Linked DNA regions of Homo sapiens: all the other regions are linked to region 7. The links come from fine-mapping of genetic effects on gene expression. A gene starts in region 7. Each other region holds a variant in brackets. All regions are shown on one strand. Distances are from middle to middle.

Region 1 (4,047 bases), 20 kb after region 7:
TTGAGAATTCATTTCCTTTTTGATACTTACCTTATGGTACTTACCTTCCTACTTAATCTGGTAACACATCTCTCATGTCAGGGCAAAGGATTCAGCAAAGAATTAGGTTCAGCAAGAGTAGGTTGTCATTTTAATGGCCTGAAGGGCTCAGCCATGAGAAGCTGGTAATTACTGGAGAAATGCCTGGCCTTTCCCTCTCCAGTACAGGTGGCCCTGGGCAAAACCATGGGGGAGGAAGGGCAAGGCCCTGATGGAAGCCACAGATAAGCTCAGCTTAGGCTGAGCATGCAGTTAGACTTGCTGGCAGAAGGAAGGGAAGGAGAAAACATACATATTGGGCAACTATGCTGGGCCAGGCCTTGTTCTCATTTAATCTCTATGCCTGCCTTGAGAAGTTCCCATTTTATGGCCCAGAAAAGGGGCATAAATATCTCCCCACCTCTTCTAATAGTTACATCAACCGTCGGGTGACAGAGCTGGGCTTTGTGATGCGAGTCTGATCTCTGCCACACCAGTGAGCACAGTGTCAAGGCAAAGCCTTTGCAGCTGCACTCCACTCCAACATTGTGAAGGAGGCCGGGCGCTTATAATCCCAGCACTTTGGGAGCCCAAGGTGGGCGGATCTCTTGAAGCCAGGAGTTCGATGGAGGCCAGCCCGGCCAACATGGTGAAACCCCATCTCTACTAAAATACAAAAATTAGCTGGGTGTGGTGGTACGCATCTGCAGTCCTAGCTACTGGGGAGGTGGAGGCTGCAGTGAGCCGAGATCACACCACTGCACTCCAGCCTGGGCGACAGAGAGAGACTCTCCCAAAACAAACAAACAAAACCCAAAAATAAAGAAGTCATCTTGAAAGAAGTTTCAACATTTGCCTTTTCATTCTGAGATTACAGTTTTCTATAAACATCTAAGAGTGAAGAGTCTGACGTTTTTTGGTCACAGCTGAGCCACTGCGTGACCCCCGCCCCGCCCCACACTCACTTTGCTCTAGGCAAAGCTGTACTCTGAAAGCTGGCCCCAATGGGGAGGTTAGGACTGTGCCTGCTCAGAAGTCTGTGGGTGCCTCAGAGAAGGGCAACAACCCTAGGCTGGACCCTAGCCTTGAGAGTACTTCCTACTGCCAGAGCCCCCAGATTTCTTCCGGTGGCAGCAGATACTGCCAGAAGAGCCTGCGGTGCACACACCAGAATCCGGGTACTTGGATGAGAAGGACACATTACTGATCACCTTCCTCCAGGCAACCCTGTCAGTTAAGGACTACAGTCCCGCCCCCATTATGTAGATAGGGAAACAGAGGCAAAGAAGTTAGGAAACTCGCCCAGAACTCTCAGCTCATGAATAAAAAAGCAGAACTAAAACCCAGTGCTCTCCCTGGCTGGGCAAACGTGTGGAAGTTGATGTGCCTGGTTACTGTTTGTGCTTCGCTTATCATAACCAGTGACAGCGTGGTTAGCACTGTTCGCCTCAAGGGCAGCTGTGAGGATTACTTGGGATTGTCCTGTGGAAACACTTCACATGCATATTAACTAGGAGAAAAGCCACTGGAGAATGAGCTTTATGAGCTCTATCAATCACCACAGCTAGTCTGACCTAGGGGTAAGCAAAATGGAAGACAGGAAAAAGGGAATACATTTGCTCAGGACAGCGTGAGGGCCACGTGAGCTGCTTGATTGGTAGTGATTTGTACAGGGGCTTTATGGATCACTAGGTTTTAATTTGCAAGGCCTGAAACTGTCCTTAGCATTCTCTGAAACCCACAGTGCCAGTCGCCCTTCACGCCTCGGCCAGCAGAAAGCTCCTCATGAGTGGATCCTCTTGAGAACTTCAGAGGGGTCAGGTGACGGTGACTGAGACTGCCTCAGTGATCACGCTCGGTGCTATGAGCTGAAATCTGGGCCAAGGGCACAGTAAGTTCAGGCAGCTAGTATGTTTAAAATAACTACTTTTCGGGAGCTAAGCCATGAGGACGTAAAGGCATTAAGAATGATACA[G/A]TGGACTTTGGGGGCTCAGGGGAAAGGGTTGGGGTGAGGGATAAAAGGGTCCAGTGTACACTGCTTGGGTGATGGGTGCCCCAAAATCCTGGAAATCACCGCTAAAGAACCTCACGTAACCAAACACCACCTGAACCCCAAAAACCTACTGAAACTTTTAAAAATTAAAAATACATACATAAAATAGCTACTTTTACTGCTGTCAACAGCATGTTCCTGAAAAATGTTGGAATTCAAACTTTCTGGAGGGCAGCTGGTCAAGAAACTTATTCACGTCAGGAGTTTTCTAAAATTTGTTTTTAATGCTTATTGGTACTTCTGCATTAGAAGTAACTACAAATGTCTTATTAAAGTTTCCACTTTAAATGCACAATTTTACTTCATTTTATTATAAGGAATTGTTACAGAAAATGCAAATATCAGTATTTGAAAAATACATTCCATTACACAGACTCCAAAGAAACAATGCTGATAAGCGCCGTGGTCCTCTATGATACCATCACCCCACACTGAGCACCACCCCGAAGGGGCTGGAAGCCAGGTGATCCACCCAAATGTGTGCCTGCAGTTTCTGCCCAGCTACTGCCCCTCCTCTGGGATCACACAGGGATGTCGTAACAGCCAACTCCACACATCTGCCAAAAAAGAGCAAGTCATCAAGGCGAGCAGTCTCGACTCAAGACTCCCTAGCTGCAGAAAACCAATGTTGTCAGTTGTAACAGGTTAATATATTATTTATGCCACACAAAAAAGGAATAGTACAGGCAATGATCTTCCAAAGAAAGTCTTTAAGGCATCTGTAACTTCTGGGAATTTCAGGGTTTTTATCTTGCCAGTCAGCTCTCACTAAAGTACTTCCACAGAGTGAGAAGGTGGCTCCCAAGTCCCTTTGGTGAGTTGGTGCCACCTGCTTCCTCTGCCACCAGGCTGGGGTGGGGAGCTTTGGTGCTTCAGGTAGTTCTTCTGGGACTTGTCCCAAGGGAAGCAAGTGTCTGTCATGGAAACATTACCCTTCCTTGTTCCTGCTACTGTCACCTGGGAAGTTAGCGTTAGCTTGCCTTTCAGGGTGAAGCATTACATAGTTCAAAAGTGTTCTTTTTCTCCAGATAAAAGAAACCTAGATGGAGGTCAAGCTCTCCCCTTTCCCAAGACGTTCCCTCCACTCCGTGCCCGTGGAGAAGATTAGTGCAGAAACGGTTCAATATGGCAGGTGTGGGACATGAGCGGGGAGGAGTGGAGAAACCACACACACACTGAGATCCACACAGGGACCCATTCAGGGACAAGAGTGAGGACACAGAACGGGGTGGTCAGAAATGACTCGGGGCTCTGAGGTAGAGGACTAAAGGTCACGTAGACCCCACTCCTTGGAGAGAACGTGGCAGGTGAACTGAGCAATCGAATCCAGCCTCAACTAAATTGGTAATTGGGGTTGACCGTGCACAGGCCCAAAACTCCAAATGGAACACATGTTCTAACACATCGTTCAGTGAGACACCACGAAAAAGATGACTGAAAGTTCAAAAGTCCTAAGTGTAGGCACTTAAGTTTATGGGAAATTTCGGTGTTAGAGGATCATAGCAAATTAGTTTAAGCCATTCGATTTATATATAGCACATGGTCCGTACCTTTGTTTTAAAAACAACGACAACAAAAGACTGTTAGGAATACACTGGATAATAAATCTGGCGATGAGCAAAGGGCAGTTGAGAGCACATTCAGCATAACAATGTTGACTGTTGCAGCAAATTATGTTTCAGTAAAGTTTACTTTTCCTGCTCTACTCATTCAGAAGTGGCAACTTTCTGAATGAATTTAAGTTTTTGCTACTAGTACTTAAGCTACTGATGAAAACTTACAACAGCTAGGCAGGTTTGTACGCAAGTGTTGACAGCAGGGAGAGCACGGGAAGGGCTGGAAGCATGCCTAGTCCCAGCCAGGGCAGGGCATGTTGGAGTCAGCTCCCACTCAAGCAGCCTGCTGAGTGCAGCCCAGCGAGCGTCCGCGTGGTCGGGGGGCTTCCTAAGTCTGTGGAAAGAGGCTTTTCCTATATC
Region 2 (4,047 bases), 230 kb after region 7:
GCCTGCTCACCTGCCAGCTGTCTTCGCAGTAGCAGTGCCGACTGCAGCTCCGTCATCCTCCCTGCCGAGGGCCCGGGCTGGCGCCGGGGCTTCCGAAGGGCTGGGGACAGGCTCTGGGGGCGGCTGGAGCGGGGTGTGCCGAGGAACCCGGGCCCCGCGACCGGAGCGCCGGAGCCGAGGAAGGCCGGGCTGAGGCGGCGGGAGCGGCGCCTCGCTGCCGGTGCGAGTCCGCTCGCTTCAGCTCTTTTCACAGCGACTCACGCCCGGAAGGGGAGGGTGCCCGGGCTGCCGCGGCGCGCACTGGGACTTCGCTCGCCCGCTTCCCTCCTTCAACCCGCCCGTCGGCCCCACCGGTGCCTTCCCCCGCCACTGCCTCACTGCGCGCAGGGCCGCTCGGCGCAGGCGCGCTGAGACTGCCGACTTGGGAAGCGTCCCGCCCGCTAGCCCGACCCCTCGGCCTCCCGCCCCGCCCCCGGCGGCGGAACCCCGCCCCTTGAGCGCAGTTGTCCCGTCCGCCGCCATTTTGGGAAGGTCGACGCCCGGCTGCCAGCCCAAGCCTCCGCTGGTAGACGCCCCGCGGACGCCATGACAAAGAGGTCGCAGAGGGTCAAATACAGCCTCTGGATTGAAGCAGTGGATATAGGAGCGAAGAGGCCAGAAGAAGTGGTAGATGTCTAGTCCTTGGCGAGCGCCCAAAAGCCATCTAACACTGCCACATGGTGTGCGAAGTAGGAATTGTTAGAAAGCCGAAGTTAGTACTGGTGTGCCCCATTTTAACCAAACATCAAAATAGAGGCAATATATGATGATAACTCACTTTACATGAAGAGTGCACAAAAAAAGCCACCGCGTCCGGCCCTATTATTATTGAGCCACCGAGACCGGCCCTGTTATTATTATCATTTATGGACGGCAATTCTCTCTGTCGCCCAGGCTGGAGTGCAGTGATCATAGCTCACTGCAGCTTGGAACTCCTGGGCTTAAGGGATCCTCCCATCTGAGTCTCCTTAGTATCTGGGATTACAGGTACACACCACCATGCCCTGCTATTTTTTTATTTGCTTTATAGAGATCGGGGGGTTTGACGGGGCGCGGTGGCTCATGCTTGTAATCCCAGCACTTTGAGAGGCCGAGGTGGGCAGATCACCTGAGGTCACGAGTTCGAGACCATCCTGGCCAACATGGTGAAACCTGGTCTCTACTAAAAATACAAAAATTAGCCCAGCCTGGTGGCAGGCGCCTGTACTCCCAGCTACCAGGGAGGCTGAGAAAGGAGAATTGCTTGAACCTAGGAGGCAGAGATTGCAGTGAGCCGAGATGGTGCCACTGCACTCCAGCATGGCCGACAGAGAGAGACTCCGTCTCACAAAAAAAAAAAAAAAGGAGGGGGGGGCCAGAGGTCTCTCTGTGTTGCCCAGGCTGGTCTCAAACTCCTGGGTTCAAGCAGTCCTTCCAACTCGGCCTCCCAAAGTGTTAGCATTACAAGTGTGAACCACTGCCCCCTATCAAATAGACCAAAGGGACCATTTTGATATTTCACTTTACCAAATCAAGGAAATTTACTTCTATTCCTAGTTTCTTTCTTTTTTATTTTATTTATTTATTTATTTATTTTTTGAGACAGCCTTGTTCTGTCGCCCAGGCTGGAGTGCAGTGGCGTGATCTTGGCCCACTGCAACCTCTGCCTCTCAGGTTCCCGAGTTAAAGCAATTCTCCTGCCTCAGACTCCTGAGTAGCTGGGACTACAGGCGCACGCCTCCAGGCCAGGCTAATTTTCTTTCGTATTTTAGTAGAGATGGGGTTTTACCATGTTGCCCAGGCTGGTCTCGAACTCCTGAACTCAGGCAATCCGCCTGCCTCAGCCTCCCAAAATGCTAGGATTATAGGCAAGGGCCACTGTGCCCGGCCTATTCCTAGTTTCTTAAGATTTATTTTTTGTAAAAAAAAAAAAAAAAAAGAT[T/G]TATTTTTTGTAATAATTTCCAAATCTGGTGAAAGATCAGGGCTGGATAAAGGTTTAGAAATTGAACCTAATCCTTAAACAGTGGGAGGCCCCTGAAAAGTTTTAACTAGGAGTAGAAAAATAGCAGACTTGCATTTTGAATGTTTTGCTGTGGCTGCAGAGAATTGATGAGGGAGGGAGGGTCAAGACCAGTGCCCTGCAGGCTGTGGTGGCTCTCATCTGTAATCCCAGCTCTTTGGAAACTCCACGCAGGAGGATCACTTGAGGCCAGGAGCTAGAGACTAGCCTGGGTGACAGAGCAAGACCCTATCGCTACAAAAAAGTGTGTTTTGTTTTGTTTTGAAACAGTCTCCCTCTGTCGCCCAGGCTGGAGTACAGTGGCACAATCTCAGGTCACTGCACCTCTGCCTCCCTGGTTCAAGTGATTCTCGTGCCTCAGCCTCCTGAGTGGCAGGGATTACAGGCCTGTGCCACCATGGCTGGAGAATTTTTGTATTTTCGGTAGAGACAGAGTTTCACCATGTTGGCCAGGCTGGTCTTGAACTCCTGGGCTCAAGTGATCCACCCGCCTCAGCCTCCTAAAGTGATGGAATTGCAGGCATGAGCCACTATGCCCAGCCCAAAATATTTTTTTAATAAACATTTTAAAATTTTAATAAAAATTTTTAAAGCCTGGAGACCCTTATGGAGATTGTGGCAGTAACTAAGACTTGGATTAAGGAGTGTCCATAAAATATTTAGGCCTTGGTGGCCAGGCGAGGTGGCTCACGTCTGTAATCCCCGCACTTTGGGAGGCCGAGGCGGGCAGATCACCTGAGGTCAGGAGTTCGAGGCCAGCCTGACCAACATGGAGAAACCCCGTCTCTATTAAAAATACAAAATTAGGGCCTAGGGCAGTGGTTCACTCCTATAATCCCAGCACTTTGGGAGGCCAAGGCAGGTGGATCACGAGGTCAGGAGGTCAAGACCAGCCTCACCAACATAGTGAAACCCCGTCTCTACTAAAAATACAAAAATTAGCTGGGCGTGGTGGCCAGCTAATAGTAGTCCCAGCTGCTTGGGAGGCTGAGGCAAGAGAATCGCTTGAACCCAGAAGGCAGAGGTTGCAGTGAGCCGAGATCGCACCACTGCACTCCAGCCTGGGCGACAGAGCAAGACTCTGTCTCAAAAAAAAAAAAAAAAAAAAAGGCGAAATTAGCCGGGCGTGATGGTGCATGCCTGTAATCCCAGCTACTTGGGAGGCCGAAGCAGGAGAATTGCTTGAATCCGGGAAGGGGAGGTTGCTGTGAGCTGAGATTGTGCCATTGCACTCCAGCCTGGGCAACAAGAGTGAAACTCCGTCTCAAAAAAAACAAAAAACGAAAAAACAAAGAATATGTAGGCCTTGGTGATCTATGGGATATAGGAAAGAGCAGGGAGCACCACAGGTGACTCTCCTGACCCGGGTGACTGGGTGCCATTGGTATGACAGACCAAGTCCAAGGAGTGGGTCTCGCTTTGTTGGTTAGGCTGGTCTCAAACTGGTCTCAAGCGATCCTCCCGCCTTGGCCTCCCAGAGTGCTGGGATTACACGCGTGAGCCACTGCACCTGGGCCCTCTTGCTTTTGAGGTTAATGCCATCCAGCTGCAGCACTTGCCACTCCCCTTTGGTGCTGTGACCTGCAGACCCATTCATCATGGACTTTTCCTCCTGCCTCAGAGCCCTTCTCTTCATTCTACTCCAGCCCTCCACCTTGGGGACCTAATTACCCACATGAATGACCCGTCCGGTACCCCTGCCTCTCACCACTTGACTTCCTCTCCTTCCCTTCCCACCAGCTGGCCTCTCCGTGTTCCCGTGGGACAGTCTCGCCACCCAAAATTCCACCACACCCCAGTACTTGGTTTCAAGCCACGCACCCTGACCACCATTCCTTATCCTTCCAGCTTACTGGCTTTAGCGTTCACGCCACACAGCTCTTCCACACCAACAAGACCCCATTCTGTGTACCACTTTTTTTTTTCTTTTCTTTTTAAAACAGAGTCTCGCTCTGTCAACCAGGCTGGAGTGCAGTGGTGCGATCTCGGCTCACTGCAGCCTCCGCCTC
Region 3 (4,047 bases), 110 kb before region 7:
TGAAAACAGACCTAATTTTGGACAATAAAACAAATTGTAATAATATTCATAATAGGACTGAACTAATTAAAAATATGCTCTATGACCACAAGGGAATTAAACCTGAAATCAACAACCAAATGATATCTGGAATATCCCCCAAATATTAAGAAACTAAACATCAAACTTTTAAATAATCCACAGAGCAAAGAAAAAAAAAATCACAAGATAAATTGGAAAATATATTGTGACCTAAATGAAAATGACAATATATCATAAAAAAAAATTGTGAGATGTTCCTACTGAATCCAAGGGACACCGAAAAAGAAAAAAAAAATAGTGGATGTGGCTAAAGTCATACTTAAAAGGAAATGCACAACATTAAAATTCTTCTATTGCCAAGGAAGAAAGGTCTCAAATCAGTGATGGCTCCTACCTTAAGAAACCTGTAATCCCAGCACTTTGGAAGGCTGAGGCGGGTGGATCACTGAGGTCAGGAGTTCGAGACCAGCCTGACCAACATGGTAAACCCTGTCTCTACTAAAAATACAAAAATTAGCCGGGCATAGTGGCATGTGCCTGTAATCTCAGCTACTCAGGAGGCTGAGGCAGGAGAATCACTTGAACCCAGGAGGTGGAGGTTGCATTGAGCTGAGATCATGCCAATGCACTCCAGCCTGGGCAACAAGAGCAAAACTCCATCTCAAAAAAAAAAAAAAAAAAAAAGACAGAAACCAGAAAAGCAGCCAGGTGTGGTAACTCATGCCTGTTATCCCAGCACTTTGGGAGGCTAAGGCAGGAGGATCACCTGAGCCCAGCAGTTTGAGATCAACCTGGGCAACATGCTGAGATCCTATTAAAAAAAAAAAAAAAGAAAAGAAAAGAAACCGGAAAAGCAGTAACAACACATTAAACACAAAGCCAGAAGAAATAAGGAAATTTATCTGGGCAGTAATCAAAGAAACAGCAAACAGAAATAAAAGAAAAATGAATGATACCAAAGTTGGTCCTTTGAAAAGATCAAATAACTTGACAGATCTCTGGCTAGACTATCTAGGAAACAAAAAGAGAAGACATAAATTGCCACAATCAGAAAATAAGAGAAGACGGCTCATACCCCAATATGCCAGGCTGAGAGAAATTAAAGAAACCTAAATTTATTCTCTAAATAAACTGAATGATGTACCATGCACTCAATATAGAAGTCCCTGACTTACAATGGTTCAACGTAATGATTTTTCAACCTTTATAATGGGTTTATCAGGACATAACCCCATTATAAACTGAGGAACATCTGTCTGGTTAAGGTATTGTCCCAAATTAATCTATAGATTTGATGCAATGCCAATCAAAATCCCAGAAGGCCATATACTTTTCTGAGACAGGGTCTTGCTCTGTTGCCCAGGCTATAGTGGAGATCACAGCTCACTGCAGGTGATCCTCCCACATCAGCCTCCCAGGTAGCTGGGACTACAGCATGCCACCACGCCTGGCTACTTATTTTATGTAGTGATGGGGGTCTCTACAAAGTGCTGGGATTTCAGGTGTAAGCGACTGCGCCTGGCTCCTGCAGGCTCTTTTATAGAAACTGATAGAAACTCTTTTATAGAAGCTGATTCTAAAACTTACACAAAAAGACAAAGAAACTAGAAGAGTCAAAACAATTCTGAAAAAGAGCAAAGCTGAAAGACCTGATTTCAAAATTTTATACAAATTTAAAATAGTCTGGCCAGATGTGGTTGCTCATGCCTGTAATCCCAGCACTTTGGGAGGCTGAGACAGGTGGATCACTTGAGGTCGGGAGTTTGAGACCAGCCTGGCCAGCATGGTGAAACCCCATCTCTACTAAAAATACAAACGTTAGGCTGGGCGCAGTGGCTCATGCATGTAATCCCAGCACTTTGGGAGGCCAAGGCAGGCAGATCACCTGAGGTCAGGAGTTTGAGACCAGCCTGGCCAATAGGGTAAAATCTCATCTCTACTAAAAATACAAAAAATTAGCCAAGTGTGGTGGTACGTGCCTGTAATCCCAACTACTTGGAAGGCTGAGGCAGAAGAATCGCTGGAACCCAGGAGGCGGAGGTTGCAGTGAGCTGAGATCGTGTCACCGCACTCCAGCCTGGGCAACAGAGTGAGACTTGGTCTCA[A/AAAATAAATAAAT]AAATAAATAAATAAATAAATAAATAAATAAATAAATTTACAATAGTAAAAAAAGTGTAGTACTGAAGTAAGGACATATAGATTAATGAAACATAATAGAATCCATAAATAGACAGATACATGTGTGTCAATTTTCGACAAGATTCCAAGATAATTGGATGGAGAAAGGATGGCCTGTTCAACAAATGGTCCTGGATCAAATGGATGTTCATACGCAAAAGAAAAGATCTTAGACATTTACATACACGAAAACAGCACAGACACTGCCTAATGCTGATGCTGAGTGAAAATGCAGATGGCTTCACGAGCAGAACTGGGAATGTAATGGGTAGATACTCCAGATTGCCTGGGCCTTGGCAAACTAAGTCAAAAGGGCATTTGTGATATAATACTTTCAATGTTATACTGATAAAACAAAATGGAAAGTTACATGAATTCTAATACAATTATTTTAAGTGCAGCCACCTGACTCCATGTAGTCACCTGACTCCAAAATATGTTTAAATTACCCATAGAAAGCAAATGACACCAGCAAATGGAGAAATTAAATGTTCAGAACCTATATATCTAGCCAACCAAAAAACACAGAGCCATATACACAAAAAGACAGCATGGAAAGGGGCCTTTGAAATTATCCCAATTCAATACATCATTTCAGAAATAAGGAAAAAGAAGCTCGGGGAGCTATAACTTGTTCTTTAAAAAAATCACACGCAGGCCAAGAGCCAAGGTAATTTCATTGATTTTAGGGTACGGAGGGATTAGGCATTTTTCTTCCATTCTTAGAAAAAAATAATTACGCATGGTACCTGTTTTCCTCTTCCGAGTTTTGACATCAACAATCACAGCCCTGTTCTTCTCAGTAAAGTGCTTCAAGATGATCACATTATGGGGTTCATTGGCATTATCCATATAAACGCAGCGGGTTCCCACACAGAGGACCTAGAACGTGGTAGACAGAGACAGAAAGGCAACTCAAACATGGAGACAAGAAAGAATTCTTAGGCATAAGCCCAGCCCCCTTTGATTGTGCCTCTGATTTCAACAAGCACGCAAGGATAGGGATCTTCTCATCTCTAAGTCCAAAGAGTCTGCCACAGGCTGGCACAGAATTGGTTTAAGTCCTTGCTGGATGAGGCCATGTTTTTACAGCCCCCTTTGTCCTAATCAGTTGAGGGACATGAAGATTAGAAATAAGGTCAAGGTGAATGCCAAAATGAAAGACAATTTTCTTTGAAGTTCTTTGTAATCTGATATATTACAGTCACCTATTATTCAAAGCCAACTACTGGCTATAAATGAATCAAATGTTTAACCGTTAAAAATGCAAGTTGAATAAACCATCCCATAATCTTGACAATACTTCAATACTACAAAAGCAAGGTGTACAGGCAAAGGAAAAAGCTTCCAAAGAGATCTATGCCTATATATCCGGAAGCCACAGAGGCTTTGGTGTGTATAGTGAAGACTGGAAGGGGTGACCAGGCCCTCAGGCCTTCAGAGTGTGGTACCTGGGGGAAGCCAACCAGCACGAGCAGGGTGAAGATGTTGGTGTGCTTCAGCTGGAATGGCAGCTGCTTGATGCAGTGGTCTGTGAAGGTGGCAATGACATCACGCCACAGTGGGGCACTGTTGAGTGACCGCAGGATCTCTGCCATGGAGCACGCCCAGTCCAAGCCCACCCGGCTGGAAGGCAAGAGCTCCATTAGGGGCAGTACACAGGGCTCCAAACTCAACTCGTTAGAGCTCACTACACTCCAAGGCAGACCCAGAAGCCTTCAAAGAGCCATTCATTAACTAGCTTAAAAACTACCAGAATAATGCTTTTCGTATAATGGTGAGTAAAAGAGCAAACAAAATCAAGACTTGTTACTTACATACTCACCCTACGGCTGTGTTTCCAAAAATATCTATAAAAATC
Region 4 (4,047 bases), 150 kb before region 7:
TCTTTTTCTTTTTTTTGAGACAGAGTCTCACTCTGTTGCCCAGGCTGGAGTGCAATGCCACGATCTTGGCTCACTGCATCCTCCGCCTACCAGGTTCAAGTGATTCTCCTGCCTCAGCCTCCCAAGTAGCTGGGATTACAGGCGCCCACCACCTCACCTGCCTAATTTTTGTATTTTTAGTAGAGACGGGGTTTTACCATGTTGGCCAGGCTGGTTTCGAACTCCTGACCTCAGGTGATCCGCCCGCCCACTTTGTAATCCCAAAGTGCTGGGATTACAGGCTTGGACCACCACACCCGGCCTCCTCCTCCTCTTTCTCATGCTCATATTTCTCTTTCTTTGTATCCTCTTTCTCCTTCTCCTCCTCCTCCTGCTCCCATCCCCCTTCCTCTTCCCTTCCTCCTCCTTCCTCTTGTTTTTTTCTTGCGTTTCTCTGATTACTCCTCCAGGTGAACATTTACCATCTGCTTATTGGCCATTTGTATCTTTTCTTTTGGGAATTGTCAGTTTCTGGTTCTTGGCCATTTTTCTGTCGGTGGGTTTATCTTTATTTTATTGATTTACAAGGGCTCCTTGTAGATTATAGAAAATAACCTTTTGTTGTAAATTTTTTCCAGTTTGTCATTTGTCTTCTATTTTTATTTATTATTTATGGATCATTTGTTTTATTAAAATCTTGATTGTGAAAATAACATTTGCTCATTGTTAAGGATTCCAACAATGCAGAGGGATAAGAGGAGGGTAGAAATGCTTTCTCCTCTCTCATCCCGTGCCCAATCCTCAAACAGAACCACTCCACACTGCTCACCTGTGCTATTAGACAGTTTCTTTTCTTTTCTTTCTTTCTCTTTCTTTCTTTCTCTTTATTTCTCTCTCTCTTCTTCCTTCCTTCCTTCCCTTCCCTTCCCTTCCTTCCCTTCCCTTCCCCTTCCTTCCTTTCTTCCTTCCTTCCTTCCTTCCTTCTTTCTTTCTCTCTTTCTTTCTTGAGACAGAGTCTCACTCTGTAGCCCAGGCTGGAGTGCAGTGTCACAATCTCAGCTCACTGCAACCTTCGCCTCCCAGGTTCAAGCAATTCTCATGCCTCAGCCTCTCGAGTAGCTGGGATTACAGGCGTGCGCCACCACACCCAGCTAATTTTTTCTTTTGTTTTTTTTTTGTATTTTTAGTACAGACAGGGTGTCGCCATGTTGGCCAGGCTGGTCTCGAACTCCTGACCTCAGATGATCCACCCGTCTTGGCCGCACCAAGTGCTGGGATTACAGGAGTGAGCCACTGCACCCAGTCAACATTTTCTATGTTTATTCAAAAATAAATATTTATAAATCCATTCGTTCAACTGTCAACCTAAATAACAAACAGGGAGAGGCTGTCTAAAAGGAAAAGATTGCCAGGCACAGTGGCTCATGCCTGCAATGCCAGCACTTTGGGAGGCTGAGGCAGGTGGATTGCTTGAGCCCAGGAATTTGAGACCAGCCTAGACAACATGGCAAAACCCTGTCTCTATAAAAAATACAACAACAACAACAAAAATGAGCTGGCCATGGTGGCGTGCACCTGTAGTCCCAGCTACGTGGGAGGCTGTCCTGGGAGGATCACCTGAGCCCAGGAGGTTGAGGCAGCAGTAAGCCACGATGGCACCACTGCCCTCCGTCTGAATGACAGATCTCAACATTTTTTTTTTTTTTTTGAGATCTTGTCTCGGAAAAAAAAAAAAAAA[C/A]CCCAAAACCACCAAAACAATAAATAAACAAATAAATAAATAAAAGTAAAAGATATTTATTATTCCCAACTAACTGACACAACTAATATTTGTTAAGTGCCTGTCGAGTCAGGCCCTGTGCTCTAATTTGGGCACAAAATGATGAACAAAACAGATATTGTCTCTGCCACCATGGAGCTTACAGTTTAACAGGGAGATGCTGATACAAAAAAAAAAAAAAAATCCATGTCAGTATATGTACACATTGTGATCAGTGCTGTGAAGAAAGATAATAAAGGGCGCTGTGGAGGACAGCCTCCACGATCCCCCATGATCCCTACCTCCTGGAATTCAAGCCCTTATTTCGTACCTTCCCCTTGTATGGGGGTAGGACTCATTGACTTGATGATCACAGACACTAAAGCAAAAGTGTTGGAGTGTGACCTCTGAGATTGGGTTATAAAAAGACTGTAGCTGGCTGGGCACAGTGGCTCACACCTGTAATCCCAGCACTTTAGGAGGCCAAGGCAGGAGGATTGCTTGAGCCCAAGAATTCAAGACCAGCTTGGACAACATAGGAAGACCCTGACTCTACAAAAAATAAAAAGATTAGCCAGGTGTGGTGGCAGGTACCTGCAGTTCCAGCTACTCAGGAGACTGAGGTGGGAGGATGGCTTGAGCCTGGAAGTTTGAGGCTGCAGTGAGCCATGATTGTGCCACCACACTCCAACCTGGGTGACAGAGACAGAACCTGTCTCAAAAGAAATGACTGTGGCTTCCAGTTTGGGTGGTCTTGCTCTTGGATCACTTGTGCCAGGGGAAGTAAGCTGCCATGTTGTGAGTTGACTTATGGAGAAGCCCATGTGGCATGGCAAAGAACTGAGAGGCCCTCAGTCCAACAGCCTGCGAAACACTGCAGCCTGCAAACCACCATGTGAGTGAACAGATCTGTTAGCTCCAGCCAAGTCTCAATATGACTGCAACTCGTGAGAACCTTGAGCCACTGACGCCCAGCTAAGCTGTGCCTGGATTCCCGGCCCACGGAAACTGAGATAATAAATGTTTGTTGTTACAGGCCACTAAATTTGTAAGTCACTGGGTTTCCCTCTGTAGATCAATTTGGAGAGTACTACCATCTTAACAAATTTAACGCTTCTGATCCACAGATATGGGATGTTACTTTCTGCTTATTTATATATTATCTTTGTTTGCTTCATGTTGCTACAACAGAATACTTGAGAAAGAATAATATATAAAGGAAAGGGGTTTATTTAGCTCACAGTTCTGCAGGCTGGGAAGTTCGAGAAGCATAGCACTGGCATCTGCTCAGCTTCTGGTGAGGGCTTTCCTGCTGCATGAAAATGTGGCAGAAGGTCAAAGGGGAAGCGAGCACATGTGAAGAAACAAAACCTGAGGGCTGTCCTGGCTTTATAACAACCCACTCTCACATTCTCATGAGATGTTTCTTATGAGTGTGGATGCAAAAGTCCTCAACAAAATACTAGCAAGCCAAATATTTGTAAAAGTCCTCAACAAAATACTAACAAACATTTTTATAAATGCCCATGAGAACAAATCCGGTCTCACAAGAGCTAGAACTCACTCACTACCACAAGAATGGCACCAAGGGGCCTGTGAGAGTGGAACCCCCCCATGACCCAAACACCTCTCATTAGACTCCACTTCTTAAAGGTTCTGACATCATTATATTGGCAATTAAGTTTCAATATGAGTTTTGGCAGAGACAAACCACATCCAAGCCATGGCAGATCTTTAATTTCTTCCAACAATGTTTCATGGTTTTCATGCTATAAGTTTTGTACTTCTTTTGATAAATTTATGTCTAAGTATTTTATTCTTTTTGATGCTATTGTTAATAGAATCTTCTTAATTTCATTTTTGGATTCTTTATTGAAAATGTACAGAAATACAATCAATTTTTGTGTATTAATCTTGTATTCTGCAACCTTGCTGAATTTATTAGTGTTACAGTTTAATAGGGGGATGCTGATACCAAAAAATCCATGTCAGTATATGTACACATTGTGATCAATGCTATGAAGAAAGAGAAGAATTGGCACTGGGGAGGGTAGCCTCCAAGATGCCCCCATGAACCCTGCCTCTTGGAATTCAGTAATTTTTTACTGAGTTCCTTAAAATTTTACATATGGAAGATCAGGTTACCTACAAATAGAGATAGTTTTACTTCTTTTCTAAACTGGATGGCTTTTTGCTTCTTTTTCTATCCTAATTGTCCTACCTAGAATCTCCCCTACAATGTTGAATAGAAGTGCTGAGAGTACACATCCTTGTGCTGTTCCTGACTTAGGAAGAAAGCATCCAGCTTTTCA
Region 5 (4,047 bases), 72 kb before region 7:
ATAATATCTATATCAATATCTATATCACAAAGGCAGAGACAGAAAGAACTAAGACAAGCCTGGCCTCCTTCAAACCAATAATGGCAGGCATTCTAGAAACAACCTGCACACAGCAAGACATTCCGAGTTCCCACAGTTGTAGAGTTCCCACAGTTGACTGTGTGTTTTCTCTTCTGCAAACAGGTATGTGGTATCTGAACACAGCCTGAAGTTTCCCACAGCAGGAAGCCTTCCATTTCTCAGCTTTTAACCCACAGGCTTTTATCCCTCTACTGAAAATTCCTTCAAGTAAAAAGATTATCCAGCTTTCTTACTATAATTTGATTACAAAAATACATATTGACATTCCCCCCGCCAAAACCATACAGGTTACATCACCCCCTCGATTCCTCAGCAGAGAAAAACTCTTCCATATGACATTTGTTTCCATAAATCACTCATGTCTCAACACAGTTTTGTTTATTTGAGCAGCTTTTTAAAGGAGATATTAAGATTTGGGGATGTAATCAAGATGTTTTAACAATCAGAAAATAAATTCTGCAATGTGAGATCCAAAGAAATGAGCAATAAAGGTGGTAGGAATAAAAATATCAATAATAACAAAACGAGGCTGGGCGCGGTACTCACGTCTGTAATCCCAGCACTTTGGGAGGCTGAGGCAGGCAGATCACCTGAGGTCAGGAGTTCAAGACCAGCCTGGCCAACAGGGCGAAACCCCGTCTCTACTAAAAATACAAACATTAGCCGGGCGTGTTGATGGGTGCCTGTAATCCCAGCTACTCGGGGGGCTGAGGAAGGAGAATCGCTTGAACCCGGGAGGTGGAGGTTGTGGTGAGTCAAGATCGCGCCACTGCACTCCAGGCTGGGTGACAGAGTGAGACTCCGTCTCAAAAAGTAAAACAAAACAAAACAAAATGAGCAACAGTCAATTACCCACTCTAGTGGAAGGAAGCTCTGTTTTTGCTTCTCCCGCCTGCGCTGCGTGGAGAAGACATACCCTGCCAGGCGGTTAGGAAGCCCATGCCTTATCTCTAGGTAGGGCTTGAAACACTTTTCCCCTGAATTAGTATGAAGGTAGAGAGAGACTCTCCCTCCGTGTGGGTCCTGCTAGGCGGCAGGGAAGCAGGGTAAATACAGAGATGGCATCCCTAAGAGACATGAGGAAAAGAGATGGTGAGGAGAAGGTTATCAGCAAAGGAAGCCTAGTGGGGTGATGCTACGAAGGCGCTGCAAGCTAGCTAAAGGTAATAGTTAATACCTACAGCTTCCTCCTTGGTTATTACTACATTCAAGAACTTAAACATCTGTGGTTTTAATTGGAATTTCTTAGAATGTTAGAGCGAATCACCCTTAAACCAATTTTACAGATAAAGAAACTGAGGTGCAGAAAGGTCGTCTGATTAACCTGAAGCTGCACAACTTTTGAGTTTTTGCACTGGGACCAGGACCCAAGTTAAGGTTTCTTTCCATTAAATTTCTCAGCAGTTTTCCATGAGAATTCTGGATAAAGATAATTTACCTGCTAATTTTGCAACTCAAGGTTAGGTGCCACACATTATAATCTGCTAACCATAAAGTGGCCATGAATCTTTTAATAGGCAAAGTAGAACCAACAAGATGATGTTTACAGTTATAGAAATGTGTTTATATTTTAAAATATTTTAAATGTTCACTTAAGATAGGCTTTCTTAAAACTTAGCAATTAGCCTTCAGATCAAAAATATTCCCTGTAATAAAGTTACCATATTTTTGCAGCTTCTCATATAAATCTGGAGTGCGATACACCAGAGCAGCAAAGGTGGCGTTCACAGCTTGATCAATAGTGGAACCAGCAACTATATCTGTCTTTGGGGCCTGTTTTCTACATGCCTGTATGAATCCTTTGAAAAGTTCTGAATATGGCCCACAGAAGTTCTGAGCAGGCTCTGACTGGGCAAAATCAAGAAGAAAATGGCGGCAGGGGTCGTCAGGAATGTTCTTAACCTGGAAACAAAAAATAAACCCATCACATTTAACACATTCATTCAAAAAATAAAATTTATTGAGCAAACTATTAGGCCAAAGCAGAAGTATAAAACACAGTGAACACTCTCCGGAAGTTTAAATCTATTTTAGGAAGACCAGACAGAGATATGAGTTAAAAAAAGATAAACATAAATAAAACATTAAAAGCATTAGAACTAGCATTCCCGTAAAGCAAAAGATTATCAAGTGCCAAATGCCTAGAAGGGATACCCAGTGCTGAGAATTCAAAGGAGAGAGATCCTGGTAGGTTAAAGTAATTAAGAAAA[G/A]CCTCCTGGAGGATATGGGCTTTGGCCTGGACCCTGAAGGATTGGCAGATTTGGCTCTGAGGAACATAACCATTAGCAGAGGTTACGAGTCAGTGGGGAGACTGACCTGGCCTGAAGTCTCAGCTGGGGAGTGATGGGAACTAGAGTCAGATAGGTAAGGTGAAAGGAGACTGCAGAGAGCCTTGACTGTCACATTGAGGAGTTAGACTTCACCCTGTGGGCAATGGGGAGCCATTAATGGTGCTTGGCAGTGGAATGACAAGATAATGCAGTGATTATAAAAAAAACTTGGTAGGTACGAATGTCATAAGGCAGGTGCAAATGAGGGCCCGGATAAAGATGCAGACAGAGGAAAGGACAGAGATGAACATCATGAGGAAGAATCCACAGGACCTGCAAGCTGACTGGACAGGAATGGGGAGACAGGTGAGGACAGGGGATGCTAGGGAGCAGTGGCTTCAGGCCTGGGGAACACTGACCACCACAGAAGTGACCGGTCTTTGGTTTTACACTTCTGAGTTAAGGGGAGTCAGGACATTTAAATGGAAATGCCTCACAGGAAGATGGAAACAGGTACTTGGAGCGGGGAGAAAACCAGACCTGGAGACTGATATTAGGAATTAGGGCCACAATGTTTGACAGGAGAAGAAAGTGGAGAGGATGAAGTCTTGGTGGGCTGTGGGGAAGGGAAGAAAGCCTGAATAAAGCCTACCCTTTAGGGAAGGAGGAATATGAAAAGTCAATGAAGGAGGCAAGTGGGCAGTCAGATGTAAGAGAAGACAGCGGACTAGCATGGATCCAAAGAAGAGAGGGTCTGAAGGAGCCAAATTTAACAGAGGCAAGGAGAACAGAAGCTGAGGAAGAGCCACTGGATTTGGCAATTAACTACTGAATAACGTGGGGCAGGGCAGGGAGGGGAAGGAAGAAAAGTAGAATACAGAAATAGAGGGAAGGAGAGGTGAAAAATAAAGACAGGGCAAACTTTTTAGTTTTTAAAATCTTATACACCTAAATCATGTGCTGTAATTCTAAGGAGAACAAAAGGTATAGCACAAATCATTGCTCTAAAGCTTGACTCAGTAGGCACTAGAAGTACACTCAATTGTTTGCCTGATAACTCCATCAACAGAGATTTACTGAGCACCTCCTACATTTCACCCAAGTCACGCATTCAGTATTTCTGAACACCTATTGCGCACTGGCCCCTGTGGGACACGGTGGCGTTAACAAGTTAACAAGGTATAGTTTCTGGCCTCAAGGAGCTAACTGCTTAATACGGGTAGTAAGATAGAAACACAAGTGTTTATAACTTAAAGTAATAAATACTTGCAGGCAGTTTCCAGTCTAAATAGAAAGAAAACGGAAGAGTAAATACCTCCTTACTATTCCGGTGTGGGTGAGTGGGCCAGCTTGCTTCTAATTCCAACTCTGGACAAACCTGATGCCTGAAGACAGGTTTCCACAGTGGGGAGCTTAGGACTAATGCCATTTTTGCCTGAGGTACTACCATGTTACTTCCTAACTCTAGAAAGAGAAGAAGACATATGACAGTTCTATTTTTGCCTTAATATATTGAGAATCTTTGAAATGAGAAAGAAAAGGTTAAAAAAAACCATGGATACTATTAAAACTTAGAGAAAGTTTACCCACATACCAGAATGTAATTGTGATACTTTGTAAACACATACCACAGATTAAGCTAAACCACCAAGTCCTGAAATACTGCTGCTCTGTGGAACAACTTCAGTTACAAGGT
Region 6 (4,047 bases), 45 kb before region 7:
AAGTAACTACAACAGTGTAATGGATTGTTTATAACACAAAGACTAAATGCCTGAGGGGATGAATAGCTCATCCTCATCCTCTGTATGATTATTTCACATTGCATGCCTGTATCAAAACACCTCATGTACCCCACAAATATATATACCTACTATGTACCCATAAAAATTGAAAACAAAAGTAGTAACATTGCTTAAAGAAGGTAGCACGAAAATTACCATAATTCTTATCTGTGTAACTTGGAAGGCAGATTCAGTTCCGGTAGAAAAAATAGTGCTGGCTCTGGTTTTTCCAGTTTCCGTAAGAAAACCTGAAAAAAGGGAAAACTCAAGTTAGGGAACTAACCCATTTTTATAGCCCTAAGAACTAAGATCAACAAAAACAAACCATATCCTTTGAGTCATGGGGGGTAACTGGTCTGATATCTTCACGAAAATTAGAGAAAAATGTCCTCTTTGGACAGAGGCAACCCCGATGATAAAGCCCCAGGTAAGCAGAGAACTGACCAGGTTCAACTTTCCCAGGGCACAATCCCCTCCACCTCACAGGCAGCCCTGCTCTGAGGTAACAATAAGAAAATAAATGTTTAGGCCGGGCACAGTGGCTCACGTCTGTAATCCCAGCACTTTGGGAGGCCGAGGCGGGTGGATCACGAGATCAGGAGACGGAGACCATCCTGGCTAACACGGAGAAACCCCGTCTCTACTAAAAATACAAAAAATTATCCAGGTGTGGTGGCGGGCGCCTGTAGTCCCACCTACTCGGGAGGCTGAGACAGGAGAATGGCGTGAACCCGGGAGGCGGAGCTTGGAGATTGTGCCACTGCACTCCAGCCTGGGCAACAGAGTGAAACTCCGTCTCAAAAAAAAAAAAGAAAAAGAAAAAGAAAAAGAAAAGAAATGTTTATAAAACATTTAAGCCAAAGCGACAAAAGACTGGACAATCAATCATCTTCCTGAGCCACACCTACAACCATGGCTGATGGCTGCCTGGGCTGATAAAGCCTACTGGCTTAGTGGCTGAGAAAGGGATTAGTTAGCTTCTACAACACTTTGTCAGGAAAGGTTATGAAAGGCTTTGAAATGGGAAAAAAAAAAAAAAAAAAAAAAAAGAATCACTGGGTGTCCTAGCCAACATACCCTTTCGGTCGTCTCTGCCTTTTATGGTCTCTAAACTATTTTACAATTCTGTAAGTTGTAGAACACTGGTAGTGATGCACATGATTCTTGTCCACAGAACTAAACACTGTGTTCTGTGGAAATGTTGCTGATTATTCCTTATGGATACTGACCAACATTCTATCTATTTGTAAATTAATTTTAGCATTCTTGTTAGTCTACATGTATTTTATGAATTCTCCTTAGAACTGTTTGTAACATCTTACTGGTTCCCTCATTAATTAATGAGCTAAATAAAAAGTCTGGGCCAGGCACAGTAGCTCATGCCTGTAATCCCAGCACTTTGGGAGGCTGAGGCCAGTGGATCACTTGAGCCTCAAAACCAGCCTGGGCAGCACAGTGAGACCCCATTTCTACCAAAAAAAAAAAAAAAAAAAGCAAAAATCAAGGTGGGTGTGGTGGCTCACACCTATAATCCCAGCACTTTGGGAGGCTGAGGCAGGCAGTTCACTTAAGGTCAGGAGTTCGAGACGAGCCTGGCCAACATGGTGAAAACCCCATCTTTACTAAAAACACAAAATTCGCCGGGCGTGGTGGCACACACCTGTAATCCCAGCTACTCAGGAGGATGAGACAGGAGAATCGCTTGAACCCGGGAGGCGGAGGATGCAGTAAGCTGAGATCTCACCATTGCACTCCAGCCGGCCTGGGTGACAGAGTGAGACTCCAACTCAAAAAAAAAAAAAAAAAAAAATCAGCTGGGCACGGTGGTGCACACCTGCAATCCTAGCTACTTGGGAGGCCAGGGTGGGAGGATCGCTTGAGCCTGGGAGGTGGAGGTTGCAGTGAGCTATCATCACAACACTTCACTCCAGTCTGGGCAGTAGAGTGAGACCCTGTCTCAAATGAATGAATGAATGAATAAATAAATTAAAGTAAATAAATTAAAAGTATGAATGTGTTCACTTATATTTGTATGACAGTCACTATTTTCCTTTTTTGATTGTTGGTAATTATCCTTTAACAACTCATGAAAAAGTCTTCTGCTAGACCCAAGGTTGCCTTTCTCTTTCAAACGTCTCTAAATGATATAACTCAGCAATAAATAAGCTTTTTTTTCTGGGACTCTGAATTTTCTTAACAATTCTGCCTATCAAAATGACAAGACTAAAACCAATTTCATGCTTCCTGTTTCATTACATGGAGTTCAAGCCAACAAAAATTTATAAAGACAATGTGCAAAATGAGTCACCAAAACTAAGAAAATTAAATCCAAAGGAAACTTCTCTAATTCACACAGACGCTCTATGATCTAGT[T/C]CTATGAAAGAGCAATTCTATAGGCAATTTTAAGAATCCATACTACCAACAATTCACACAACTCCACTAACAGTAATACTAAGAACTATCCCAATTATTGAACTCTTACCTTTTCCCAGAGCCCTGGATGTCTCTATGTAAAAGAAATCTATGTAAAGGCTAAACTATTGTCTAAAAGTTAAGTGATAAATCAGCAATTTTAGTTAGTCTCAATGTAGTAGCAGAAGCAATAATTTAAGTCAACAGAATCGGATAGACTCTTTTAAAATAACACTGCCACCAAATATGCAATGACATTTTTTCAGAAAGGCAAAACAAAAACAAAACCTTAAAAAAAAAAATAAAACTTCTGTGCTTCCTTTTCTTGGTAAGAAATCAGCTCACGTGGTTTTTTTCATTTTTCTCTTTTGTTTTTTAGACACAGGGTCTCGCTCTGTTGCCCAGGCTGGAGTGCAGTGGTACAATCATAACTCACTGCGACCTTACACTCCTGGGCTCAAACAATCCTCCTGCCTCAGCCTAAGTAGGCCCACAGGCAAACACCACCATGCCCAGCTAATTTTTTATTTCATTTTTTGTAGTGACTGGATCTCACTATGTTACCCAGGATGGTCTCAAACTGTTGGCCTCAGGAAATCCTCCCACCTCTGCCTCCCAAAGTGTCGGGGTTACAGGCATGAGCCACTGTGTCCAGCCTAGCTCACAGGTTTGACTGTGATTTTTTTTTTTTTTTTTTTGAGACAGAGTTTTGCTCTTGTCACCCAGGTGGGAGTGCAATGGCGCAATCTCAGCTCACTGCAACCTCCGCCTCCCGGGTTCAAGCAATTCTCCTGCCTCAGCCTCCCAAGTAGCTGGGACTACAAGTGCCTGCCACCATGCCTGGCTAATTTTTGTACTGTTAGTAGAGATGGGGTTTCACCATGTTGGCCAGGCTGGTCTCGAACTCCTGACCTCAGGTGATCTGCCTGCTTCGGCCTCCCAAATTGCTGGGATTACAGGTGTGAGCCACTGCACCCAGCTGAACTGTGATATTTTAAATCTATAAGTTTTGACACCCTGCCCTCCACTTGCCAATTTATTCTTTTTAGATAACAGGGAAAAAAAAAATAACCAATCAGATTTAAAGGACTTAATAAATCTACCACTTCTGCTCCTATCAGGAGCACCCAGTATTCCTTTAAAATACCAGACCAAGTGACAGTGGTGACTGCCAGGAACGTTAGCCCCCTGAAGTATCAGCGTTTGAGTTCTCTGGGCATTCTGTGGGCCCTGCAGTGGCACTTGTCCAAAAGTGGTACTTCCCCACTGTTGGAGAATCAGACGTGTACCCATGAGAAGAGCTTTTACTCCGATAAGGGGAAGAAAAAATCACCCCCAAACCCAACAGCTCTGGCCATGAGTACTTTCCTCTTGTCTTGTCCCTTAAGGGTTACTTTTTGCAGTGCAGCAAGAGAGACCGACATCAACCCTGAGTTACAAGCAATAGATAGTGATGGCTGGAGGGAGTGAGCAGGAGGAACCCAGTGCTCCCCACACCCATTCACATCCCACCCTTGTGTTTCTCAGGCACATGGCAAAAATAACAAATCCACAAACTACAGCTAGATTTTTAAA
Region 7 (4,047 bases):
GCACCCGCCACCATGCCCAGCTAATTTTTGTATTTTTAGTAGAGGTGGGGTTTCACCACGTTGGCCAGGCTGGTCTTGAATTCCTGACCTCAGATGATCCTCCCGCCTCAGCCTCCCAAAGTGCTGGGATTACAGGCGTGAGCCACTGCGCCCAGCCATGACTATTATTTTTAAGGGTTGGGATGCCTTAAAGGTACTTTTTTCATAAGAAACACACAAACTACATTATCTGAATTCTGGCCATGTACAGGAAGACATTCTTAAAATATTTTAAAAGCCTCTGATTTTAAGGTGAACAGAACCTTTTAAAGGCACTGCAAGTACCCGCTGGTTTACTGCTTTATGTACACACCCTTCGTGGCCACTGAAGATTCTACATGACTGGCTAACTCATTTTCACAAAATAAGTACCTTTTTGGTCATACCGTGGTGTTAAAAGAAATAGGATCCCAGGAAGGAGGTAGTGAGACATTAAAAACAAAAAATAGGGTGCGGGTGGAGGGAGAGAGAGCATCAGGAAGAATACCTAATGGATGCTGGGCTTAATACCTGGGTGATGGGATGCTGTGTGGAGTAAACCACCATGGCACACGTTTACCTATGTAATACATCTGCAAATCCAAATCCTGCACATGTACGCCTGAATTTAAAATAAAAGTTGAAAGAAAGAAAAAAAAAAAAAGCAAGAGATCTAGTTGATAGTCTGTTTTACTAATGATTCACTGGGTAACCCTGGATCAGTCTTCTTAACTCGAAGTGAAGCGCCCAGTAAATAAACTCCCAAAATGCCTTCCAAGGAAAATATTTTGTTGCCAAATCAATTTGCTCTCTTAATGACTTAGCAGACATGATCTTGGTGATTATATGAAGAACTGCATAATTACAAGTATTCACAGGAAACCTGGTATTTGCCTATCAGTTTCGGATCCTATGAAGGTTTAAATGAGTCTAATATATGGTTCTTTAAGGATCTACAAACCAGTATGTATTTTAGAAAAGCTAGTTTTTGCATGAGGAGGATAGGTTTTAGAATGTGAGCCTTTCCAGCATGTTACTACTGTCTTTCCACACTTATTCGGCGCCCACACTGAATTGGGAAGGTGCTGTGTAAAAACCTGGACAGGACAATACAAAAAATGGTTCTCAGCGCCACTCCTCCTATCCTTACATCTCTTTTCTCTCCAAACTGTTCGAGAATCTGATAGAAGATCTCCAGAGTAGCGTCAATCAACTGCACAAAGGTCTGCATTACAACATACAGAGAGAGACATATGGGCTTGTCCAGCTCTTCAGAGCAAGGACGGCCTGATGCAGACTTTCCAGACCTCTAACATAGGTTAAAGAGAAACGAAGCAAACGCCTGGTGAAAAGCTGGAAACACCTCATATGGGTCCCCGCCTGGCCTCTCCAAAGCAAATGCCCACCTCTTCCTTCAGTCCCCTGGGGGCGACCGCCCTGCCCCATCCCCGCAGTCGCCTGCCGGCCCTGACCTCCTCGAACTGCTCGCTAGAGCAGCCGGCGCCGCGAGCCTCCAGCAGCTCCCGGAACTGCTCCAGAGTGACAGACTCTTCGCCGCGGCCCAGCCGCTCTTCCAGCCAGCGAAACAACGCGCCGCGATGCCTCGACACCAGCGACTCGCAGGGGGGTGTGGGCAGCAACGCTGCAGCAGCCTCTCGCAGCCTGGCCGGCTCCAGCAGCGCCGCGGCGGGTGGTAGCGCTGGAGCCGCGACGCCCGGGCCGGGGGTCGTGCCCGAGACCGCGGCCCAGTCCTGGTGTGGGCCCCAGCCCTCGCCACCGGCAGCTGCCGCTTCGTCTTCACTGCTGTGACTCGGAGCGTTCCCCATGGGGTCTCCGTCTTGGGCGCCTGGCTCTGCAGCCGCCGCCGCCGCCTCCCCGCCTCGACCTGTCAACCTCCGACAGCAGCTGGCGGGCGGGGACGCGGAGGAGACGACGGCGGCCCCTGCGGCTTCCGGCTTCCTGGCCGTCAAGCGACGACCGCTGTCGCAAAGGCGCCGTCACGTAGATAGGCGGCCTCTACCAACTCACGACAGCTAGGCGGGGAGCGCCGCCTCAAAGGGTGCAACCTTGATTTCCCAGAGGACGAGTCTGTCTCAGTATCTACGTCATTCCGTAGCCTCCGCTGCCGCCATCTTTGTTGGGGCTGACAACCTGCAAGCCAAGAAGTACGAGAAGGGCCAGGCGCGGTGGCTCACGCCTGTAATCCCAGCACTTTGGGAGGCCGAGACGGGTGGATCACCTGAGGTCAGGAGTTCGAGACCAGCCTGACCAACGTGGTGAAACCCTGTCTCTACTAAATACAAAATATTAGCCGGACGTGGGGGCGCGTGCCTGTAATCCCAGCTACTTGGGAGGCTGAGGCAGGAGAATCGCTTGAACCCGGGAGGCGGAGGTTGCAGTGAGCCGAGATTCCGCCAGTGCACTCCAGCCTGGACAACAAGAGCTAAAACTCTGTCTCAGAAAAAAAAAAAAAAAGTACCTGGAAAAAGTCGCAGACAGCGAGCTTTTCGCCAGTGCCAGGAATACAGATAAAACGAGAGAGACTAAGGGAGGGAGCGCGAGCACTAGCGCGCGAGAGAGAGAGCGAGAGCGCGCGCGCCGATGACGTCACGCTCGGCGTCTCGGCCATCTTAGCTGTAGATAGAGGCGGCAACCTCGGAAGTGCGGAGCGGGTGGGCCTATATAGATGTTGAGGTGCGGAGGCCGTGGGCTTTTGTTGGGCCTGGCTGTAGCCGCAGCAGCGGTAATGGCAGCACGGCTTATGGGCTGGTGGGGTCCCCGCGCTGGCTTTCGCCTTTTCATACCGGAGGAGCTGTCTCGCTACCGCGGCGGCCCAGGGGACCCGGGCCTGTACTTGGCGTTGCTCGGCCGTGTCTACGATGTGTCCTCCGGCCGGAGGCACTACGAGCCTGGGTCCCACTATAGCGGCTTCGCAGGTATCAGCGAGGCTGCTCACGCCTTTCTCTCCGCTGGCGCGAGCCAGTAGCCACCTGCGCGTCGTTCGTTGGTTCATTATTCATCTATTTCCCCCCCCATCCCCACCCCACATCCATCAAACCCGTGCGGTGGGCGGGACGAGCTGCATGCACTATCCTTCTAGGCTCTCTGGCTCTGGCGGGACTGTGGGCCAGCTCTGTCATCCACCACCGCCCTGCGTGACTTACATTGGAGAAACATGTCTTCTGTCTCTTGTTACCCATTACCCAGCGTCGGAAGCCCTAGGATACGGGCTGTGTGCCGGACTTTTGTGGGGGCTCTTAGGGCACAGATAAACGAGATCCCGCCCCGCCCCTACCCTCACAGTTTCCTTAATAATTCCAACCATCTCTTCATTATGCCCTGGTCCCAAATAATCTTTCTTCCCCCCACCCCTAAGCATAGTGTTTTCAAGGTTCATCCATGGTTTATGAGCATGCATCAATACTTTATTCCTTTATGGCCCGTCATATAGTACATTTGGTCTGAGTCATTCCTGCTTCTAGTACAAGATGCACCTGTTTGCCTTCCTTAGAAGGTTAGGGCAGAGGAAAGGGGTCCAGTCACCTTTACAGTCCTTGATACGTAGACCAAAGTTGTGCATATGTTAGGCCTCAAGAAACATTTGTCAAATTAAGTTTATGCTGGTGTCCCTGTGTTACAGCTGAGGGGGTTAAAGGATGCGATTTGCCTGAAACCCTCACACCTGAATACTGACAGAATATGGACTCGGACCACCAGTCTAGTGCTTTTTTTTTAAAGATGGAATCTCGCTGTGTCGCCCAGGCTGGAGTGCAGTGGCCTGATCTCGGCTCACTGCAAGCTCTGCCTCCCGGGTTCACGCCATTCTCCTGTCTCAGCCTCCCGAATAGCTGGGACTACAGGCGCCCACCACCACGCCCGGCTAATTTGTTGAATTTTTAGTAGAGACGGGGTTTCACCATGTTAGCCAGGATGGTCTCGATCTCCTGACCTTATGATCCGCCCACCTTGGCCTCCCAAAGTGCTGGGATTACAGGCGTGAGCCACCACACCCGGCCAGCCTAGTGCTTT

Alleles and levels. Positions count from the first base shown, and alleles are read on the strand shown. Sizes are in standard deviations (SD) of each study's normalised expression. Not every link is listed here.
For the expression in macrophages of the gene that starts at base 2,146 in region 7, allele A in region 4 goes with a higher level than allele C (large effect, 1.2 SD a copy in Nedelec 2016).

The links.
Region 1: its variant is fine-mapped to the expression of CYB5D2 in blood mononuclear cells (TOPMed, PIP above 0.99).
Region 2: its variant is fine-mapped to the expression of CYB5D2 in whole blood (TOPMed, PIP above 0.99).
Region 3: its variant is fine-mapped to the expression of CYB5D2 in whole blood (INTERVAL, PIP above 0.99).
Region 4: its variant is fine-mapped to the expression of CYB5D2 in macrophages (Nedelec 2016, PIP 0.95).
Region 5: its variant is fine-mapped to the expression of CYB5D2 in lung (TOPMed, PIP 0.99).
Region 6: its variant is fine-mapped to the expression of CYB5D2 in whole blood (TOPMed, PIP above 0.99).

The regions. Positions count from the first base shown.
Region 1 is chr17:4,161,546-4,165,592 of GRCh38, forward strand. It overlaps ANKFY1 (ankyrin repeat and FYVE domain containing 1), which reads right to left. Exons shown (of 25, transcript NM_001330063.2): 25 at 2,276-4,047. Among named protein-coding and RNA genes, the nearest start is that of CYB5D2, 20 kb to the left of the region's middle. The variant G/A (reference allele first, on the strand shown) is at 1,994.
Region 2 is chr17:4,366,261-4,370,307 of GRCh38, forward strand. UBE2G1 (ubiquitin conjugating enzyme E2 G1) reads right to left here and starts at 415. Exons shown (of 6, transcript NM_003342.5): 1 at 11-415. The coding sequence starts at 56. RefSeq lists enhancers at 1-434, 254-548, 3,487-3,536 and a silencer at 1-585. The variant T/G (reference allele first, on the strand shown) is at 1,961.
Region 3 is chr17:4,029,191-4,033,237 of GRCh38, forward strand. ZZEF1 (zinc finger ZZ-type and EF-hand domain containing 1) reads right to left here. Exons shown (of 55, transcript NM_015113.4): 41 at 3,638-3,812; 42 at 2,936-3,068. Among named protein-coding and RNA genes, the nearest start is that of LINC01975, 54 kb to the left of the region's middle. The variant A/AAAATAAATAAAT (reference allele first, on the strand shown) is at 2,127.
Region 4 is chr17:3,991,002-3,995,048 of GRCh38, forward strand. No RefSeq gene overlaps it. Among named protein-coding and RNA genes, the nearest start is that of LINC01975, 16 kb to the left of the region's middle. RefSeq lists an enhancer at 2,716-2,845. The variant C/A (reference allele first, on the strand shown) is at 1,718.
Region 5 is chr17:4,068,942-4,072,988 of GRCh38, forward strand. It overlaps ZZEF1 (zinc finger ZZ-type and EF-hand domain containing 1), which reads right to left. Exons shown (of 55, transcript NM_015113.4): 25 at 3,667-3,815; 26 at 1,743-1,983. Among named protein-coding and RNA genes, the nearest start is that of ZZEF1, 72 kb to the right of the region's middle. The variant G/A (reference allele first, on the strand shown) is at 2,292.
Region 6 is chr17:4,096,393-4,100,439 of GRCh38, forward strand. ZZEF1 (zinc finger ZZ-type and EF-hand domain containing 1) reads right to left here. Exons shown (of 55, transcript NM_015113.4): 10 at 217-308. Among named protein-coding and RNA genes, the nearest start is that of ZZEF1, 45 kb to the right of the region's middle. The variant T/C (reference allele first, on the strand shown) is at 2,434.
Region 7 is chr17:4,141,052-4,145,098 of GRCh38, forward strand. It overlaps CYB5D2 (cytochrome b5 domain containing 2), which reads left to right and starts at 2,146. Exons shown (of 4, transcript NM_144611.4): 1 at 2,146-2,954. The coding sequence starts at 2,705. It overlaps ZZEF1 (zinc finger ZZ-type and EF-hand domain containing 1), which reads right to left and starts at 1,979. Exons shown (of 55, transcript NM_015113.4): 1 at 1,491-1,979. The coding sequence starts at 1,844. RefSeq lists a silencer at 1,705-1,874 and enhancers at 1,740-2,291, 1,955-2,264, 2,292-2,844, 2,415-2,994.